Homo sapiens: one gene and its partner. The protein of the gene in region 2 interacts with the protein of the main gene of each other region in a pairwise test. Each region holds a gene or a part of one and is shown on either strand. Other genes may lie near its edges.

Region 1 (7,027 bases), on a different chromosome or scaffold from region 2:
GGGTTTCACTGTGTTAGCCAGGATGGTCTCGATCTCCTGACCTTGTGATCCGCCCGCCTCGGCTTCCCAAAGTGCTGGGATTACAGGTGTGAGCCACTGCGCCCGGCACCATGTGTAGTTTTCAAACATGCATGGATGTGAATTTCATGTCTTCTGGGTCCACACCCAGGAGTGGAGTTACCGGGTCACAGGGTGGCTCTGTGACTCTTGGGGGAGCCCCTGGACTGTTTTCTGTAGAGCTGTCTCAGCTCAGGTTCCTGCCGCTGCCTGTGAGGTTCCGATTTCTCTGCGTACTCGCCCGCACCTGCGACTGTCTGTCTTCTTGACGGACGCCCTGGCTGGTGCGAAGTGGCATCTCACTGCGGTTTGCTTCCACATATTTTTAAACTCACTGAGTGCATGGCCCTGTGGGAGGAGGGGAGGCAGGAAGGCCACTAGAAGCCTGAGCTGTGCCCCCAGCTGGCGCGTGCAGAGGCCGGGCAGGTGGCGGCTGTGGTTGCAGCAGGATTAGTAGGAAGTGAAGAGGTCGCCTTCCCTGGCACCGCATGTGCCTCGAGTTCACCTGGAGGCCCTCGAGAGGGGCGGGTTTGGGGGCTTTGCGCGGGGCTTAGGGAGGGGCTTTCTTTAGCTGGGCGGCCCAGAGGGTGTTCCAGTCGCTTCTGCCTGCCCTGGTGACCCCTGGCTCTCCAGCCCCTCCCCATGTCCTTGCTGGCTGGGCTGGGTCTCCGTCGGGAAAGGTGGGGGCCGCTGGTGGGGTGGGGAGCTGGAGACTCTGACTACAGATCCCTGTGATCGAGGGGTGAAAGGTGGGGGTGACTGGTGGGGGGGGCAGCTGGGGACTGACTACAGATCCCTGTGATCGAGGGGTGAAAGGTGGGGGCGGCTGGTGGGGTGGGGAGTTGGGGACTCTGACTACAGATCCCTGTGATTGAGGGGTGAAAGGTGGGGGCAGCTGGTGGGGTGGGGAGTTGGGGACTCTGACTACAGATCCCTGTGATCGACGGGTGAAAGGTGGGGGCGGCTGGTTGGGGGGGGCAGCTGGGGACTGACTACAGATCCCTGTGATCGAGGGGTGAAAGGTGGGGGCGGCTGGTGGGGTGGGGAGTTGGGGACTCTGACTACAGATCGCTGTGATCGAGGGGTGAAAGGTGGGGGCCGCTGGTGGGGTGGGGAGCTGGGGACTCTGACTGCAGATCCCTGTGATCGAGGGGTGAAACGTGGGGGCCGCTGGTGGGGTGGGGAGCTGGGGACTCTGACTGCAGATCCCTGTGATCGAGGGGTGAAAGGTGGGGGCCGCTGGTGGGGTAGGGAGCTGGGGACTCTGACTGCAGATCCCTGTGATCGAGGGGTGAAAGGTGGGGGCCGCTGGTGGGGTGGGGAGTTGGGGACTCTGACTACAGATCCCTGTGATCGAGGGGTGAAAGGTGGGGGCCGCTGGTGGGGTGGGGAGCTGGGGACTCTGACTGCAGATCTCTGTGATTGAGGGGTGGGAGCTTCTGTCCTGGAGCCTCCGAGCCACCACATTGGCAGCTGGCCTGTCGGGGGGACACAGCATGGGAAGGCCAGATGCTCCTCCCTCCATCCCAGGGAACAGCCCAGCCTGAGCCTGGGCCATGTGCCTGCGTGTGAGGTAGGGGCACAGAGGGGCACGGGCTGGCCCCCGGTTGGCAGAAGTGGGGGATCTTGGGCTCAGCGGGGTCTGGGGGAGCGGGGGCTCCAGGTTGCAGAGGCCTGGGGGGAGTCTCAGGGGCCCAGAGGGGTCTGGGAGGGGACTCCAGGTTGCAAAGGCTGGTGGGGGCAGGGGGCTCTCAGGCCCAGTGGGGTCTGGGAGGGCCCCGGGTTGCTGTCATCACCAGTTGTCCGAGAGTGATCAGCCCAGTGTCCATGGTGCCCAGCGGGAGAGATCCTTGATTAAACATCCCACCAGTTTTCTGGTTCTGAAACCGAGAGTGTGAAAAATGCATCTAATGGCCAGGCATCGTGTCGCTATGACAGCGGCCAAGGGGCTGCATGTCCAGGTGTGGCTGGTCCTCCGGGGAAGGGGACAGGCTCCATCCAGCTGCTGTGCTGGTCCAGGCCCAGGGCCTTTGGTCTCCAGCACTGGGCGCCGCTGTTCTGGGAGCTGGAGCTCGTGGAGAGACGATCATTCCAGAGGGGGCCGCAGCAGAGGAGGAGGCTCCTGGGATGGCTGGGACCCAGGGTCGCCTGGCTTCCTCCTGGTTACCGGACCCTCCCCGACAGGGGGCTCCCTTTGCTGTGTCTGTGAGATGGGCAACACAGGGTGTCCCAGTGTCCCCAGGCTGCCATCCTCTCTCTCTGCGTGCCAGTCCCTGGGAATCTGAGCAGGGCCAGTGGCCGGGCCCCCTGACTGCTGTAGTCCAAGGGGAAGGGTCCCTCTCGCTTCACCCTGTCCTGGGTCTCCCCAGGTGAGTGGCATCAAGGCGCTGTACGAGTCGGAGCTGGCCGATGCCCGGAGAGTCCTGGATGAGACGGCTCGAGAGCGTGCCCGGCTGCAGATAGAGATTGGGAAGCTGAGGGCAGAGTTGGACGAGGTCAACAAGAGGTGAGTGGTCACGGCTGGGCACGACGTCACCCTGATCCTGGCACCACGGGGTGGACGGGGGCAGGTGGGCGCTGGGCTCGTGCGGGGCATGCTCTGATACGGGCACAGCCTGGAGCTCACAGCTCCCATCCTCTCTCCCCCACCAGTGGCTGCCACGTCACTTTTTCTGTTCTGAGGAAAGTGATAGATGCTCACATCGGACAGCAGGAAGCGCAGGGCAGCTTAAGCTCACAAGTAAAATCTCCCGCGAGCCTCCCCAGAGAGGGCTTCCTGGTCAGCCTGGCCTGTCTCCTTAGTGTGCACACGCGCTTGCACATGCTTACCTAGACCCCGGGCGGCACCCAGTGGACACCGTGAGACGCGTTTGACCTCAGGCCCCATCGTAGGCATTTCCCTGTGGTTGGATGTTCTTGGTGCCGGGGTTTTGTCCCAGCTGTTGGGACGCTCGGGTGTGTGGTGTGTGACCAGGGTGCTCATGGGTTGTTGGGCTGCCCCAGGGTTGGCTGCAAAGTCCTTCTGGGTGACAACTGTGTCCATCGGCAGAAACGATCTCCCCTCTCAGCCTGGCAGTGAGTCTTGCCTGATTCTGGGCGTGGGATGTGGTTGGGCGGCAATTTAAACAGAACGATGATGACAAAAGGAATATTTATTCAGAGGAGCCAGGAGGCCAATGAAACACTGAGCTCAAGGCTTTTCTTGATGTGAGGCTCCAGCTAGAGCGAGGTCTCTGGTGCCCTGCGTGTGGACACTGTCTTCCGTGGTCTCCGGCCACCGGCATTCAGGCACCTGCAGGTGCCTCGGATTTCCTCAGGCTGGGGTGGGTCAGGGTCTTCCCACACTGCTCATTCTCCCAGAGCCACGCAGGCCTGGCTCAGCATGGAGGGATCTGCTGGCAGGAGGGGTGGCACCTCGGCCACCTGGTACGGGGGTGACAGCAGCCAGTGGCTTGAGAATCCACGTTGTCCCTGAGTTGGAGTGTGGCCAGAGGAATGACCGGGGACCCTGTGTCCAACAGTGCCGGGGCCCCCATGCGTGGTTGCAGGTGACCTCTCCATCCGACGCCCTCCTCCTTCCTGGGCTGGCGCTGCTCCCGTGGAGAGCTGACTTCCCTTCCCCAACAGGAGACCCTCCAGGTCAGCCCAGGGACCACCGCCCGCCTGCCCGGGGCCTGGGGCTCCAGGAGGGACCATTTGTGCCCTGATGGTGGCCATGAGCCGGGGACCCTGGGGCCAGGCACCAGCCAGGACAGGCTGCCCACTCTCAGCACATCCCACACAGCACAGGTGCACCCCGGGACCTGCTCAGGCAGCAGCTCTGTGCTGTCTACCTCCAGCACCCACCGTGTTTAATAAGCAGGTTCATCAGTGGAGCCATGCAGGCTGTGGGATGACTAGAGCTTGGTCAGGGGTGCACGGAGCTCTGAAATGTCAGAACTACACCGTGCAGATGGGACAGAGCTGCTGCTGGCCCCGCACCAGGCGCCTCTCAACTGTTCACTTTAAGATGTTGAAATGTACAGGATGTGAATTTCACCTCAAATTAAAACATTAAAAAAAGAAAATGGTACACAGTGCCCGCCCTAGGTGTTGAGGAATTCCCAGTTCACAATCTCCTGAGCAGTGCGTGGCATCTACAGAGAGGCCCGTCTTTTCCTTTTCATTAAGACAGGGTCTCTGTTGCCTAGGCTGGAGCTCAGTGGCACAATCATAGCTCGCTGCAGCCTCGAACTCCCAGGCTCAGGTGATCCTGCCTCAGCCCCACCCCGAGTAGCTGGGACCCCAGGCATGCACCACTACACCCAACTAATTTTTTTTATTTTTTATTTATTTCCTTTTGAGACATAGTCTTGCTCTGTCACCCAGGCTGGAGTGCAGTGGTGCAATCTCGGCTCACTGCAACATCCACCTCCCAAATTCAAACGATTCTCCTGCCTCAGCCTCCTGAATAGTTGGGATTAGAGGCTCACACCACCTTGCCCAGCTAATTTTTTTACCAAGTTGGCCAGGCTGGTCTCAAACTCCTGGACTTAAGCGATCCACCCGCCTTGGCCTCCCAGAGTGCTGGGATTACAGATGTAAACCACCATGCCTGGCCTAATTTTTTTATTATTTGTAGAGATGAGGTCTCGCTATGTTGCTCAAGCTGGTCTTCAACTCCCAGGCTAAAGTGATCCTCCCACCTCAGCCTCCCAAAGCACTGGGTATAGGTATGAGCCACTGGGCCAAGCCTAATGTTTTTCTTATCCTAACAAATTTATCTCCAAAACCCCACAATGAGAGAAACACTGGGAGCAGCGTGCAGGACCTAACAAGCCAGAGCCTGCCACAAAACCCCGGGCACCCAGCTGAAGATTCTAACTCAGCACCTGGCGCTTAGGAAACGGGTCTGAGCCCTGGGAGCCCGCACCCTGCCTTCTGGGTGTGCCCTGCAGTCCTGCGGAACCCTGTGGTTTAGACCGAGTTGCTGAGGAGCTTCCCGGATTCCCCGATCTCCGCTCCAGTCCTCTGAGCTGGTCTGCAGCCTGCCTCTTCCACCTCACCCCTGGGCCTTTGCACTGCTGCTCGCCTGCCTGGAAGGCTCTTTCAGCAGCGGTGGCCCTGGCTCCTCCAGCACTGCTCCTTCAGGTCTCTGCCCCCAGGGTTGTCTCCCAGCCCCACTCCAGCCCTGCCCCCAGGCAACCTCCTGTCTGGTAGGCAGCCTGTGTCGCTGATGCCTCCCTCCGCAAGGACGTCCCGCAGTGTAAGGCAAGGGTTCTAGATGCACCTCTGGTGTGAGAGCGGTGCCTTCCACACAGCGGGCACTCGGGATTTGCCCAACAGATTCCACCTTCCCCCAAACCCCTGCAAAAATCCCCAGCAGGGCCGCAGGGCTCGCAGCCCTCTGAGCGAAAGGGCCTGGCCTGTGTGGCATGTGCTCAGAGATGCGGGATCTGCACCCCAGACCCTGCTGGAGATCTGCTCCATGTGGGGAAGTAGAGCTTAGTGTCCCTGAGGGCTGCGGACAGGGGTGCATCAGCCTTGTGGCCGAAGTCTCTGGCCTTCACGCCTCTCAAAAGCAAGCAGATGCCACACCTCTAGTGTGTGGAGAGCCCTGGCTACACCAGGTCCAGCGCCAGAGCGGCTGGCCGCCCTGCCCTGGCGGGACACAACCGGAGCCAGACCCGGGATTCAGGGTACCCGGCACGGATGCTTTTACCTGGCAGGTGGCCTTAGACCTGGTTGTCTGACCCCCGACCAGGGACCCCTCACACGAGAGACCTGTTTACACAGTGGCTGCCCCGTAGCTCGTGTCTGACCTGTGTCCAGGGTATGCCTGTCCGACCATCGCTCTGGCACTGGGATCCCAGCCTGGGGCAGCTCCTGGTTCTTCTGACAGAAGGCGCAAATTCAGCACAGCGATAGGAAACAAGTTTGAAGATTTATTACGGATCCTAGGCAGGGAGGGCACTGTGAGCTGGGAAGGCAGCCCTCCCTCCCCGGGTCACACAAGGAAGGAAGGAAGAGTCCCACAGAGAGTGAGAGCTTGGCAGCTAGTGAGAGAGAGAGGGAGATGGGTGGATGATGGATGGATGGCTGGATGGGTGGACGGATGATGGATGGATGAGTAGATGGATGGATGATGGATAGATAATGGATAGATAGATGATGGATGGATGAGTGGATAGATGGATGGATGGATGGATGAGTAGATGGATGAATGGATAGATGATTGAGGGATGGATGGAAGGATGGATGGATGGAGATGATGGATAGATGATGGATGGATGAGTAGATGGATGGATGGATGATGGGTGGATGGATAGATGGACAGATGAGTGGATGGATGGATGGATGATGGGTGGATGGATGGATGGATGATGGGTAGATGGATAGACAGTAATAGATAGAGCAATAGATAGATATAGCTATCTGTAAGGCTGGGTGCGGTGGCTCATGCCTGTAATCCCAGCACTTTGGGAGGCCAAGGCGGACAGATCACTTGAGGATGGGAGTTCAAGACCAGGCTAACCAACATGGAGAAACCCCGTCTCTACTAAAAATACAAAATTATCTGGGCGTGCTGGCACTTGCCTGTAATCTCAGCTACTTGGGAGGCTGAGGGAGGAGAATCGCTTGAACCCGGGAGGTGGAGGTTGCAGTGAACCGAGATCGCACCATTGCACTCCAGCCTGGGCAACAAGAGCGAAACTCCATCTCAAAAAAAAAAAAAAAGATACAGCCATCTGTAGAATTGATATATACGGACATAGATTATATAGATAAATACAGTTATTGATGGAGATATACTTAGACAGACATACGGTCACTTTCAGCTATGGGTCACTTTCATTTCTTGGGCAAATGCCTAGGTGGTCTTTTGAAAGGCCCTGGGGGACCAGGCGCAGTGGTTCACGCCTGTAATCCCAGCACTTTGGAGGCCGAGGCGGGCAGATCACCTGAGGTTGGGAGTTCGAGACCAGCCTGG
Region 2 (7,027 bases):
CCTGCTTCAGCCTCCTGAGTAGCTGGGATTACAGGTTCCCGCCACCATGCCCAGCTAGTTTTTGAATTCTTAGTAGAGACCAGGTTTCACCATGTTGGCCAAGCTGGTCTCGAACTCCTGACCTCAGGTGATCCACCCGCCTTGGCCTCCCAGATTGCTGGGATTACAGGCATGAGCTACCGCACCTGGCAATAAATTGCTTTTGATTTTTTTTATTTTGCTTTTTCCTGGAGTATATTAAAGCAGTCTTTGACATAGTGTTTCACACATTAAAAAGTCAGCATTTTAGCATATATCTCTGAAAGATAAGTGCTATTCCAGTGACAATGCCAATATCACACCTAATAAAATTAATAATTTATTTGTATCTAATTCATGTTTAAATTTCTCTAGTTTCAGAAATGTTTCGTTTATGATTATGTTGTTCAAATCAGGATCCAGACAGGATCCACATATCCGGTTTGATTTTTGGTTGTTTTACTCTCTCAAGTCTGTAGCTGTTACCACTGTAACTTTTTCTCTTCCCTCCATTTATTTGGTGAAGAAACCAGGTCATTACAGAATTTCCCAACATTCTGGATTTGTTAGGTTGCTTCTTTATGTCATTTAATTAGCTTCTCTATACGCTGCATTTTCTGTAGAGTGGGTTAGATCTGTAGTGAGGCTATGCAGTAGACCTTTCTGTGATAGAAATTTTTCATACCTGTGCTATCCGTTACAGTAGCCACTAGCTATTGAATACTTCGATGGTGACTAGTGAGGCTGAGAAACTCTGTTTTGCTTTGTTGTTGTTGTTGTTTTTGTTTTTGTTTGTTTGTTTTTTGAGATGGAGTTTCATTCTTTTTGCCAAGGTTGGTGTGATCTCAGCTCCCCACAACCTCTGCCTCCCAAGTTCAAGCGATTCTCCTGCCTCAGCCTCCTGAGTAGCTGGGATTACAGGCATGTGCCACCACGCCCGGCTAATTTTGTATTTTTAGTAGAGACGGGGTTTCTCCGTGTTGGTCAGGCAGGTCTCGAACTCCCGACCTCAGGTGATCCACCCGCCTCAGCCTCCCAAAATGCTGGGATTACAGGCGTGAGCCACTGCGCCTGGCGGAAACTATGTTTTAATTTTAATTTAAATTAAATTTCAATGACCATATGTGGCTAGTGGCCTACCATATTGGACGGCACAGATCCAGAGGGTTGGTCAGATCCATGTCCAGTTTCTTTCACAAGAATACTTAAATGATATAGCGGCCTTCCTGTTACATCGTTTTAGGAGGTATAGAATGTCTTTCTGGCGATGCTAAAATTAGTAATTGATTTAGATTTTGAAAGATTAATCCATCTGTTATAAAGATCCACATTGTCCTTTCATTTAATGGTTCTAACAGCCATTGTCATATGATTATTGCCTAGGTCTATTATTTTGAGGTTTTTTTTATGTATTGAATTTATGATCAGTTACAGTCATCATTCTTTTTTGATGTTCACATTGTGCCATCTGTAGCCATTAGGAATTACTAAGTTGGTTCCTGTATTTTTTAATTCCTTCCCCCATTTATCTTTGATAGTTTCTTGTTTTCTGGAATAGTAAGACGTCCCAGGCTCATGTATACTTCCTGCGTCATGCCTGGAATCAGCCATGTTTCTAAGGAACCGTGATCCTTTTAATAGATAATACTATTTGGAAGCAACAATTTGGATGCTGACATGTTCATTCCTACTGGTTGTCATTGTTTCTGGGTCTTTTCAGTAGGTAGTGCTAGGTAAATCATGAATTAATGGTGATATTTCAAATTTATAAATACAGGCTAATTTTGGGTTATGTTATACTTGTATCATTTTTATCTTATGCTGAATATCTTGGTTCTTCAAATGATGTTGTTACTTATGTAAGTATCACAACATATATGTGTTTCTAAATAATACAGTATTACTACTAACAATAAGACTGTTAAATGCAATTTGGGCTTTTGTTTTCCTTGTCTTTAGGACATATCCCACTAGAATGTAATGTCAAAACACTGTGCTTAAAGTCACTTGAAAGAATTTTTTTGTGTCATACAGCCACCAACTTAATAGTTAGGTTTTTTTGTTCTCTAATGCTAGGATTGCTTTTTCTTTTATTATTTTTTAATTGTGTTGAGAGTATAATGTAGTTTTATGTAGGCAAAATAAGGTAGAGTCAGAATTTTGGCTTCTGTCCTTTTCCCTTCCATCTACAGATAAGCATTTTTATTGTTTTGATTTATATTTTGTTTCTTTTTAAAAATATAAGTAAATATATAGATTTTTATATGCTCCCCTTTTACATAAAATGCAGCCTGCTTTGTACATTTCCATTTTTAACCTAAACCTAGAGATCACTCCATATCGGAACGTAGCCATCTTCCTCATTGCTTTGTACAACTGCATTTTATGTGTTGCATTTTATGGATGTACTGTAATTTATTTAACCACTCTCCATTTGGTGAATATTTGAGTTGTTTTCAGCTGTATGTTGCTATGAATAATGCCAGGATGAACCATGGAGCAGCATTTTGCATGTGTCACTGCATATTTTTTGCCAGTTTATCTTGGGGAAGCGTACCAGTAAAATTGCTAGGTAATTTCACCATTACATTTCTCTGCATATGAGTTGAAGCATTTTGCATTCCCACCAGCAGTGTTTGAAAGTACTGTTCTCAAATGGAGGAATATGAGGCTTTTTTGTTTTGTTTTGTTTTTTAATAAAGTTAGTACGAGTAACCATATTGGTCATGTTTTACTTAAATTGATAGGCCTTCAAGATGGCTTTTAGTTATCTCAGGAGCTTTAGAAATTATCTATTCCCAGACCTGGAGAGATTCTGATTTAATTGGTTATGGTAGTTGGGGGCATTTGCTTTTTTTTTTTTTTTTAAAGCTCTCCTTGATGGTACTGTGCCACAAGGATTGAGAATCTCAGATTATAAAACTACCTTTCCGTCTATTCAAATAGTTGGTAATTTGACTATTAAAAACCACTTACTCTGGCCAGGTGCAGTGGCTCACACCTGTAATCCCCGCACTTTGGGAGGCCCAGGTGGGTGGATCACCTGAGGTCAGGAGACCAGCCTGGCCAACATGGCAAAACCCTGTCTCTACTGAAAATACAAAAAAATCAGCCAAGTGTGCTGGTGCGTGCCTGTAATCCCAGCTACTCAGGAGGGTGAGGCAGGAGAATCACTTGAACCTCGCAGGTGGAGGTTGCGGTGAGTGGAGATTGCACCACTGTACTCCAGCCTGGGCAACAGAGCGAGATTCTGTCTCAAAAAAATAAATAAAATAAAAATTAAAAAGCAGTTACTCTGTGTATGTCTGTAATTTGTTTACAAGTTTCTCTTTTGACAATAATTTTGCATTCAGCAAATACTTCCTAATTGATAGGATGAGGAACCCAGAGATTCAGATTGTGACTTAAAACTCTTATAATATCAATTCCAAATATAGATAAATACAAAACCATGATTTATGAGACTATGTCTGTAACTTGTGGGGTTTTGGTAGTATTACATCCAGCCATTTAGGCATATTTATTGGATGACCACTCCTGTCACAGGATTAAAGTTTAAAAAAAAAATCTGTCTTTAATAGACATTGACTTGGACCTAAAACCATCAGTAATCTAGGTTAAATATTGGCGTGAAAGCAAAAGTGACAACAGAAGGACACTCTACTATAATACTGATCATTGATGGATGTTCTGTAGTTAAAAGAATTTAAAAGAATCATCTGGTAATAGCGACTTCAAAACTGAAAACCTTAAACTACTTGGAATGCGGAATTTCGGGCCCTACAGCTACAGAATCAGAATCTGCATTTAACAGAAGCTTCAAGTGATTGATAGGCACATTACAATTTAAGAAGAACTGATCTAATGGGTTTTAAACCAGTATGTAAGAAATGCTGGATTCTTTAAAAATGATCAGTGGAACATAGAAATTAATCTGAGACTGAGAATTAATCTGAGGCAGCTGTTTTCTGTCTTTCTGTAGTGACATGGATAGCATTGAGATTTGAAAGTGACGTTAGGCTTGCATATTCATTAAAGAGTGACCACAGGGTTTTTGTGGCTACCTAATTTTGTATCTGTTTCCAAGAAAAATTTGACACCTGAGAATTTTTTAGTTCAAATAAGCTATATGTGGGATTATAATTTAAACTGATTCTACTAAAATGATTATAACCATATGAAAATAATAATGTTTATGCTAACAATTACAAAAGTTTGTATTTTTGTTTTAAAAGGAAACTGACTTATAATAGATGACTTTTTTCTAAGTCATGATCAGTCTGCTTTTTGTTTAGACAGAGATGTAGCTCCAATACTAGAGCCAAATAGCACACAGTGAGTCAAAAAGGGAACTGGTGATAGTTGATGTGCTTTTTTTCCCATAATGTTTATAATTTGTGAGCTACTATAGGTGGATTCTTTAGTGTATTTTAGCACTTTTTAAGTGTTTCCTGATGCCTAAATATCAGTTCAATTAATACATTTAGGAATATTTTGAGGACATAGCCTTGTTTGTAAATGCTGGCATTTGGAGACTTCTATTTCATGGCTTCTCAGTGTGCCAGTATGGCCGTTATTAAAGTATTTGATGTTAGAATATGACTTTTTAATGTGTTGATGCTTGAATAGAGCTATTCTCAAGCTGGAATAACTGAGACTGAATGGACAAGTGGATCTTCAAAAGGCGGACCTCTGCAGGCATTAACTAGGGAATCTACAAGAGGGTCAAGAAGAACTCCAAGGAAAAGGGTGATGCAAGGCTTATTCCTTGGGTTTTCAGATTTGTAGGGTTTTAGTATTATTTTATATTTATTGTTTTTGTTTTGTTTTCAAACTAACAGGTGGAAACTTCAGAACATTTTCGTATAGATGGTCCAGTAATTTCAGAGAGTACTCCCATAGCTGAAACTATAATGGCTTCAAGCAACGAATCCTTAGTAAATATGTTTCATAAACTATACAAGTGGTATTCTTTGTAAATTACCCTTTAATTGGAAATGGGGAGGTGGTGAATTTTGGCAAATCTCAAATTTACATGTTTTTTTTTTTTAACAATTTTAAACTGATTTTCCCCATATAGTTCTGAATTTTAGAATTTTCCTATAATATCCAATTTATGTAAAGAAATCTAATTCATTGTACAAGAAAGTATAAGGATATTTTTTGTTAAAATATTTGAAGAATGAGGCTTCATATGTGAGGCACTAAGTTGTGTTTGTAGGCTGTGTTGCTTAAATCTTTACTAAGGGAAAATTTCTAATATTACAGAGATAAAATATCTTTCTTTTCTTTTTAAGTGTCTGTGTTATGTTTGGATAATTCTGAGTCTGAATAATTTGAATCTTGGCAGGTTGTCAATAGGGTGACTGGAAATTTCAAGCATGCATCTCCTATTCTGCCAATCACTGAATTCTCAGACATACCCAGAAGAGCACCAAAGAAACCATTGACAAGAGCTGAAGTAAATGAATACAATTTAGATCGATGCTATCATTGATCTTTCAAAGAGGAAATATAAATATTTGTTTGTTTTTTTTTTTTTTTTTTGGAGTGGGAGGGAGCAGAGCTTTCTTTATTGGGTGGTGTGTGTAAATATGCATAAATTATTTTAAGGACACTTTTATTAGTGAAAACAGAAATTAACTAATATAGTTTGACATGCTAATACTATCCTCTTGCCACTGTATCCCTCTTAAGTTCCAGTTTTCAAGGGAGTGGTCATTTCTGTTCTGCTTATAATATGTTCTGTTTGTCATGGATGCAAGTTTGAAAGTGCTGCTGGGCTATGAGGGAGGCTACACTTTCTTTTGTTGACGGGTCAAATAAGAGACTTTAACATAACTTCATGTGGTGCTGGAATGGGTTAACTCCTGTGTAATTAAGCTTGAAAGTACTAACTGCATGGTGCATTTTAATTTGAATGAATCTTTACAAAAGGAGCCGAAACATTTATTATTTTGTTCTGGACATAAAGGTAAACAGTAAAACAAGCTAAACATTATATTTTTTTTAATTTGGGCATATTGCATTGACTATAATTTTAAAACATATAGTAAAGTTTGCTAAAGGTTCATGTTAAGTATCTTCTGTATTTTATCTTTTACTACAGAATTCTTAATAAATGAAGAAACAGTATACTTTTTTTTTTTTGAAACGGAGTCTTGCTCTGTTGCCCAGGCTGGAGTGCAGTGGCACGGTCTCAGCTCACTGCAACCTCCGCCTCCTGGGTTCAAGCGATTCTCCTGCCTCAGCCTCCTGAGTAGCTGGGATTACGGGTGCCCGCCACCACGCCCAGCTAATTTTTGTATTTTTAGTAGAGATGGGATTTCACTATGTTGGTCAGGCTGGTCTCGAACTCCTGACCTCAGGTGATCCACCCGCCTCAGCCTCCCAAAGTGCTGGGATTACAGGCGTGAGCCACCGTACCCGGCCCAACAATATACTCTTAATAGTAAAAAACAAAATCAATGAGGGAATTAGCATTGCCATGTTAGATTACTGAATTTTTTCCCCCCAGTTATTTAAATGTGTGGCAGTTTTTCACTCCAATAACCACATATATAAGGTATCTTCAAGAAATTTGAAGAGAGCCTTGGAAGCATGTGGATACCTAAATAATAATTTAGAAATGGCAGCTGTAAAATCTATGATAGATTTAAAGGCATTTTGTTCTCTAAAACTTACTATTTATGTTTTAATTATTGCATGTTTACACTAAATTTTAACTTGTGGTTGTTTGTTTGTCTGTTTCTTATTAGGTGGGAGAAAAAACAGAGGAAAGAAGAGTAGAAAGGGATATTCTTAAGGAAATGTTCCCCTATGAAGCATCTACACCAACAGGAATTAGGTATTCAGATACATTTAAACAAGTACTAGTGTATTCTAGTAGGGAATCTTTATTTTTAATTCTTCATCACAAAGTTACTGTACTTCTGCTCAGAATTAAGCTGTTTTTTTGGAGCCAGGTACAATGGTACATGCCTGTAGTCCCAGCTACTCAAGAGACTAA

Evidence for each region. The genes of interacting proteins can lie anywhere in the genome.
Region 1: the proteins of TMPO (region 2) and LMNB2 interact in a two-hybrid assay, tested with the Homo sapiens proteins (2 studies listed by BioGRID, with this or other methods).

What each region holds. Positions count from the first base shown.
Region 1 is NC_000019.10:2,439,940-2,446,966, reverse strand, and holds part of LMNB2 (lamin-B2), read left to right. Parts: intron 1-2,426; coding exon 2,427-2,563; intron 2,564-7,027. UniProt on the Homo sapiens protein: Lamins are intermediate filament proteins that assemble into a filamentous meshwork, and which constitute the major components of the nuclear lamina, a fibrous layer on the nucleoplasmic side of the inner nuclear membrane.
Region 2 is NC_000012.12:98,539,583-98,546,609, forward strand, and holds part of TMPO (thymopoietin), read left to right. Parts: intron 1-4,647; coding exon 4,648-4,767; intron 4,768-4,859; coding exon 4,860-4,955; intron 4,956-5,368; coding exon 5,369-5,479; intron 5,480-6,776; coding exon 6,777-6,865; intron 6,866-7,027. UniProt on the Homo sapiens protein: May help direct the assembly of the nuclear lamina and thereby help maintain the structural organization of the nuclear envelope. Possible receptor for attachment of lamin filaments to the inner nuclear membrane.